Linked DNA regions of Homo sapiens. The protein of the gene in region 1 interacts with the protein of each later gene in a biochemical or structural test. Each region holds a gene or a part of one and is shown on either strand. Other genes may lie near its edges.

Region 1 (3,747 bases):
AAACCCATTATGGAAGCCTGAAAGAAACAAGGTCTTCCTGGCCTGTTAATAACTTTGTGCTACCTAAGACACAGATGAATTTCTTTAATCCCAAATTTAGAAGTTCCAGTATCAACCATGCAAATAAAACACCTGATCATGGTTGCTTTGAGAAAGGAGAGTTTTAAGCAGTGGGGCTGCAGCACCAACAAAAATCAGTCCCTGTACTTCATGAGTTCCCTGCCAAGAGCCCCCTTTATTAATGAACAAGCCCTGGGAATGGGGCCTCTATTTTTTTCACAAAATACACCAAATAATGTGACTAACAGGAGACTTGGGGGATAGAAAGGTATTCTGATGCCCACAAGCATGGTGCCGCAATGTCACATTCTTGTCATTTTTACTGCCCCTCTCTCGTCTGCTACTATGTTTAGACCCTCCAGAAGAAAAATGCAGTTTCATTTTTCATATCTAAACCCCATACTTTCTGTTCCATGCCTTCCTCAAGTAAAGTGGCCCTTTTCATCACACATTCACAATCATGCACATATTCACAAAGTACTTGCCCAGATAGTGCATGTGTATAAACAACCCAAAGACATATATAAATAAAACCAAGTATTGTTTAGGGGTAGACTTCTCTGTCAATAAATGGATGGTAGCTAGATTGATAGCAAGCTAGCCAGCTAGATAGATAGACAGACAAGTTTATAGATCTCAAAATAATTGACACACACATCTCCCAAATTCTGCTAATATCCAAAGTTTATCATAGCTATGACAATATCAGTCCCAACCAGGTTACAAGTTTGTTACAAATTACAAACTACTTAAAAACAGTTTTGAAAAAAAATATATCCCAAATATTAACACTAAACACTACCCTGGAGTTAGAAAAACTGTAAATGGGATGAGGAAACTGAGGTACCAGTGGTGACATAAGGCCTTTTTGTCTGACAGACTGTTTTCTGAAGTCAGTGTAGGATGTAGTCTAACAGACCTCCAGAAGAATAATTCTTCCAACTACCAAATCAGCACACTGAGACATTAAAATACTCAAATCAGAATAAGGACCGACCCTAAGTTTAAATGTGTATTTGGATTAACATTTTTCAGCAGGAGTGTATGAAGAGGGGAGAGGATACAAGTCAAAGACTGGGTAGTCAGGCCCCCTGTCCCTTGCAGAATCCCTTACACTCACCAAACAGAATATTAAAGCAAGAGCTACCCAATAAGAAGAGACTAAAGACCCCAACTCACTCCTTTTGTGTTGGGCAGAAGAACCTGGGCTGTGAGTCAAGAAAAGCTTCCCAGGGAAACTAAGAAAAATGTTTTAATTATGTAGCTTGCACATAATGGTACTCAAGGCACCTCCCAGGAAACATCTAATCCATGCTCAAGGATTCTGGAAATGCAAATTCATCCTCACAGGATCAATCGGAGAGCCAGCATTATTCAGGTATCACTGCTTTTCTTTCAGGAGGAGATGCAACGCGGGACATGAAACCTCCTGCCATTCTGCCTCTCCATGGGAGTTCTCCACATTCTCAAGGGTGGGAGAAGGGAGTGAGCCGAGCCAGCGACCTCCCATGGTGGTCACCAACTGGAAAACCACAGGACAGGAAAAGCTCCTGCGAATGGAGCACTTTTTTTTTTTAAATGTTTCAATCATTATCTCTTCTAGTCCAGTGTTTTAAAGACTGGTTGGCCAGTTCAAATTTGGATCAAATTGAAAAGTTGTCTCTAGGGTTTTGATACAATTTAGGGTCTTCTGTAACTTACAGGGTTTCTATTTTATGTTTATGGCCACCTAAAATTAGTTTTTAACTGATATTTGAGAACCGTAAACACTTTAGAACATTAAAAAGGAACTTTACCCAAGCAAAATCTGATCAGCTAAATTAGAGCTCAGTTAAATTAGAGATCAGCTAAATTAGCTGCAGGGATAGGTGGGTGTGGATAGCATCCAGGGCTCCACAGGCTGACCAGTGCCCCTGGGACTCATCACCACAGTACATTGTTTTAAGTAAGTTCTTGTTGTTGAACCAAGTCCATCAAATGACATAAACTCAAGCTGATAAAAGTCTGCTGCCCTCAGATTCAGTCTCCATCTGCAAGGGAACGTTTGGTGTGGAGGCCAGGAAATAATCCACCCTGTGTCTTCAGGCTGACTCCAGACACTCAGCATATTCTGCCTCTGCAATGGCTTCGTCTGCTGCTGCTACAACTGTTGCTGCTACCTGCAAAGAGATGTGTCCAGCAACTTCATCACTGGGGCACAATGAGCTGTTCTTCACATTTTAGTGTCCTGGACAGGAGTGTCATCCTGTGAACAGGGGAGGAAAGAATTAATTAGGAAAATGGTGAGGAAATCCTGACACTCAGCATCCCTCCTTGGGGATGATGGATCTGGCAATAATAGTAACAGTAGGAGTAATAGTAAGAATGATAGTCATAAGAATGCTATGTGCCCAACTTAGTTTTTTTTATGCATTGACTTATTTAATCCTCACAAAAGCAATATGAGGTAGTTACTTTTATTAACTCTATCATAGGTGAGGCAATGAAGGCACAGAGAGGTTATTTCCCCTAGGTCACACAGCTAGTAAGTGGTGAAGTCAGGATTTTAACCCAGGGATCAGAGCTTGAGTTGTCCAGTACTAAGTGACCCTGCCCACCCTTGATGCCTGAGTTCCCTCTATCTTGGCCTCTTACCTATTCACTCATTCCCATTCAATGTGCTCTCCTGAAACACTGCTCAAGATTCTTAGGCAGCATATAAATGGAAAAAGGACAGAAAGAGTTGAAAATAAAAGACCAATACTTGAGTAAAAGGACAGTAAAGTAGCTATTTATTCAACAGTCATTCCGAAGGTATTACTTTGAGATCCTTCTGTGCTAGGAGCTGTACCAGGACTCCAGCCTCGTCCCCATCAGTTCTTTTGCTGAGAAATGGAAACATTTGGGAATGTAACCACAGTACAAGGTGGGGTGTGATGTGGACCATCCTAGTGGATTATACTGAGCAGGGGGGCATTTGTCCTCAGAGCAATCAGAAAAGGCTTGTGGAGGGGAAGATAGAGGTGTGGTGAGAGGACTTCCAGGTACCAGTGAGGGCTGGGTTAAAGTGGGCTGCAGGCAATTTCAGCTGGCAGTGCAGGCATTTGGGCAAAGAGGCTGTGGGAGTGGGTGAGGAGATGCCTTGCCTAATGCAGAATGGTGGAGGGTGCAGGCTGGCTGGAGCCCCGGCCCCACTATTGGGGAGCATGGAGACAGTGAAGGTTAGGCATGTGGCAAAGCCCAGCCCATGGAGGAGCATGAACTCCATTTTCCAGTGGGCAGTATCAAAGGGTTTGGGATAGGAGAGCAGACAACCTATGGTATTTATAGGAAGAGGCATTTGTCACTGATGTGTAGGGTGAGTCTGGAAACCAGGAATTCTGTTAGGAATGAGTTGTGATTGTAGAGATAGAAAAGAAAGGCTAGCACTGGTATCATCATAGAGATGGGGTTGTGCCATGTTGCCCAGGCTGGTCTCCAGCTCCTGGGCTCCAGCGATCCTCATGCCTCGGCCTCCTAAAATACTGGGATCACAGGTGTGAGGCACTGTGCCTGGTCACAATTCCATTATTGATTGAGCTCCCACAAAGCGCTGGTCATGCTCGGGGCTGAGGAGGGTCAAGGAGGAGCGGTGGGTGGGAAAGGGGAAAAGGAGGAGAGACAGAGGGATCTCTGGCAAGGACAGTTAATGTGTCTGAGGGATGATTG
Region 2 (3,747 bases), on another chromosome or scaffold:
GAGCAGAGAGCCTTCTTTGGCTCCCCCCAGCAGTAGAAGATTCCAGATCATAGGGCTTTCAAAGAGGCTCTGAGATCTTGAATCAGATTCTCAGGTTGGGCTCAGGGACATCAATCCTGGGTCCAGCTGGGCATAAATGCATGTGTGTGTGCACATGTGCATGTGTATCTGTGTGCATGTGTGTTATATGCATGTGTGTTTATACGTGTTATATGCATGTGTGTGCACATGTGTAAAGGTGTGACTGCATGTGTACATGTGTGAGAGTATGTTTGCACATGTGGCTGTGTGAGGAGCCAGAAAGGACTAGGAGAGGAGGCCATGGTTTGAGGATAAGAGCCCAGCCCTGAGGTTGTGCTTTGGAGTTGGAATGGGGGCTCTGTCATGACAGCTGCTGACCTCAGACAGGTCACTTAACCTCTCTGGGCTTTTCTGTCCTGTGTGTCTGTAGTGTGGGGCAGAAGGGATAGTGTGACCTCCTCTAGGCTCTGTAAGGTCAGGGGGTTGCAGGGAGAGCACATTCCCAGCATCTGGTCTGCAAGAAGTGTTCACTATGGCCAGCTGAGGCTATTGTCTGGAGCCTCCTGCTTCACTGAACACTGCTAGCTTGAAGGTTGCCTGAAAGAAATAGGGGCAGAGCCCCAACCCCATCTCCACTCAACATCTGCACACAGTGGGTACCCACTAATAAGTTGTAGCACCCTTTCAGTCACTCATTCACTCATTCATTGACAGAAGATCATCTTTCCAAGAGCTACTTCTCTGATGAGCCTGCACATGCAGCCCAGGGGTCCGTGAGTGTGCGTGTGTTAACCAGAGGGGCTGAGGGGGAGGCGCTCACTGGGCCTAAATTCCGGAGCCAAGAGTAGGATGGCTGGAAGACGCCTCTGAGTGGAACCGAGGTCCTGGTACCTGCAGTCCTGTAGATGGCCTGTAGATGACAGCAGAGGCCCATGCAGAGCCCCTGCGCTGAGCCGCACCTTCCCAGTTCCAAGTGAGCCAGCTCGCTCAGGTCCCTCAGCTTCCGGATTGGGGGAGTGATGTGATGTGCGCAAGTAGTTCAGATCTGTCCCAGAAGACAGCCACAGCCACCCTCCCTATGGCTCTAGACAAGTTGTTTTCTCCCCAGGGGTCCCAGTTTCCTCATCTGTGAAATGAGAGTTGCTTAACAGCCGGTGTTGGGAAAACTGGCTCAAAATACGTAAGGTAGTCTAAGATGGGCTTAACAGAGACTTATATGTGCAAGGCAAAACTAGAAAGCTAATGGAGAATATCTGTCACTCGGATGGGAGACAGAGACTTTTTAAACACGACGCCAAAAGCCCAAACCATAAGGTGAAATGTTGGCGGATCTGATCAAATGGCAACTCGGGATTTCTGGTCCCCAGGATGCTGTATATACCAAAGGGAAGCAGCGAGTCAAGGGCATAAGCGGGAGCTGCAAAAAGGGGGCAGTCGCCAGTGCTGGAGACTCCCAGAGCCACCAGAGACTAAAGAGTGGCGAATTCAACAACGACAAGATGCCACCTCCCTCGGCATGTTTAAAAAGTTGAGTACGCTGAGGGTTGGCCAACACTAGGCAAGTCGGAAGCCTAGCAAGCCATACTGGAGGGCCACCTGGCAGCGTGCAGAGCAAACACCCGACTCAAGGAGAGCTTTCAAGAGAAATAAGACGTCCTGCGCTGTCACGTTCTAGGTTGCGAGTAAAACCCGGGACCCGCACAGTAGCGGACTGCCAGTACAGGGGCCTCCCTGGGTGTCCCTGGAAACCGAGGAAGTAACCGCCCCCTCGGGAAGCCACGCCTCCTATTTTGTTCCGGCTCGGGGGCGGGACCCAGCCGGGGCCCGCCTGGCCCTTTAAGGCTGACCTAGCGGGGCCCCAAGTTGGGATGACGCGCAGGGAGCGGGGGGTGGAGTGGGGGAGTGGGGGAGGGGGGGGTGGGGAGGGGGGGGAGGTCACGTGGGCGCCGGCAGCGCGACTCTCGGCCCTGGGATTTCTGCGGCCGCCAGCTCCCGCGACCGCCTCTCCTGCCCCTCGCCGGTACCTCAGCAAGGTGCGTTGCCGCCAGGTACGCCCTCGCTGGGCCCCCTCTGCGGCCTCCTCCGGGGACCTCGCGGCCATTAGGCGCCCGGCCCCTTCCCTTCTTGACACGTGCCCGGGCGGTGCTCGCTTGTACCCCGCCGCGCGACCACCGCCCCTTGCTGCACGTCTGTACTCTCAGGCCGTTCGTCCCGCACTCCCAGCTTGCCCCGGGCTCGCAGCCCAGCCCAGTTCAGAGGCTCCAAGGCTGGGGTGTGTTGGAAAAGTCTGGGCGGGACTCACTCTTCCCCTTTCCCCCAGGTGCCACTAGAAGCGCCAGGCTGGGGCCGCCTCTGAGCGCCCCGCGGGGGCCATGGATGGTGAAACAGCAGAGGAGCAGGGGGGCCCTGTGCCCCCGCCAGTTGCACCCGGCGGACCCGGCTTGGGCGGTGCTCCGGGGGGGCGGCGGGAGCCCAAGAAGTACGCAGTGACCGACGACTACCAGTTGTCCAAGCAGGTGCTGGGCCTGGGTGTGAACGGCAAAGTGCTGGAGTGCTTCCATCGGCGCACTGGACAGAAGTGTGCCCTGAAGGTCAGTGAGCCCTCACTGAGGCCTGGGGTATCCTGGAGGGTCCACAGCGGAAGCCTGTGAGTGAAGCTATGTCTAGCGCCCCTGCTAAGCTTCCTATGCTCAGCAACATGTTTCATCGTCATACTGTCCTGTAAGGTCAGGCTTGTGGTCCTCCCTACTTCACAGATGGGGAAACTGAGGCGTAGCCTAGCTAAGCTTTGAGTGTCCCAGTGAGCAAGGGGTGGAGTCACTATGGCTAGAGATGCTGTATCCGGAAGCAGGGAAGGGGTGACTCCTGACTCTGGGATTCTGGCTGGACCCATGTGTTCAGGCCCAAAGGGGATCTCTTGTTCAGCTTGGCTGCCCCTTCCATGTGAAGCTCCTCTGACTGGAATGGATCTGTTTCCCTTTGCTGGAAGCTGAGACCCCACCAAGGCTTGGGTGGGACTGCTTCTTCCCTGTGGCCCCTGCCTGTCTGGGCTGGAGTGGTGTGAGCCTCCCAGGGCTGGCCAGAGGACAAGGCTGATGCCCACTGCACCTGTGGAGCCTCAGGAGGCTGCTGATAGACTCCTGACGAGTCGCTGGTCCCGTGTTGAAAGGGACAGGCCCTGGGCCAACCCACCCCTGGTTCCTGGGCAGAGGGCGGGCCAGCCATCTAGCCACCTCAGACTATAGGCTCCCTGGAGACCTGGCATGCTGATATAGGTGGCATGGTGGGGGTCAGGGGGATGCTGGGGGCGGGTACCTGGTTCCAGCTTAAGGCATACAGTTCTGGGCCTAGGGCCACACCCCATACCCAGAATCCCTTGAATCTGTCATCTCTGGGGTCTTTACTCATTTGTAGCTTGTGCCAATGGATGGGTAGAGCATGGCAGGGATAGTGGCTCCTGGAGGCTAGAAGTACAGCAAAGGCCCTTCTCATTTTACAAAAGATTTTTTTTTTTTGAGGCAGAGTCTCACTCTGTCGCCAGGCTGGAGTGCAGTGGCACAATCTCAGCTCACTGCAACCTCCACCTCCCAGGTTCAAGCGATTTTACTGCCTCAGCCTCCTGAGTAGCTGGGACTACAGGCGTGCGCCACCACGCCCAGCTAATTTTTTGTATTTTTAGTAGAGACAGGGTTTCACCATGTTGGCCAGGATGGTCTCGATCTCTTG

The links. Proteins that work in one complex are often made in the same cells at the same time.
Region 2: of the proteins of RCSD1 (region 1) and MAPKAPK3, one has a biochemical effect on the other in vitro, tested with the Homo sapiens proteins (one study listed by BioGRID).

The regions. Positions count from the first base shown.
Region 1 is NC_000001.11:167,703,222-167,706,968, reverse strand, and holds part of RCSD1 (capZ-interacting protein), read right to left. Parts: intron 2,306-3,747; coding exon 2,273-2,305; 3' UTR 1-2,272. UniProt on the Homo sapiens protein: Stress-induced phosphorylation of CAPZIP may regulate the ability of F-actin-capping protein to remodel actin filament assembly.
Region 2 is NC_000003.12:50,615,173-50,618,919, forward strand, and holds the start of MAPKAPK3 (MAP kinase-activated protein kinase 3), read left to right. Parts: upstream 1-1,978; 5' UTR 1,979-2,069; intron 2,070-2,341; 5' UTR 2,342-2,393; coding exon 2,394-2,612; intron 2,613-3,747. UniProt on the Homo sapiens protein: Stress-activated serine/threonine-protein kinase involved in cytokines production, endocytosis, cell migration, chromatin remodeling and transcriptional regulation.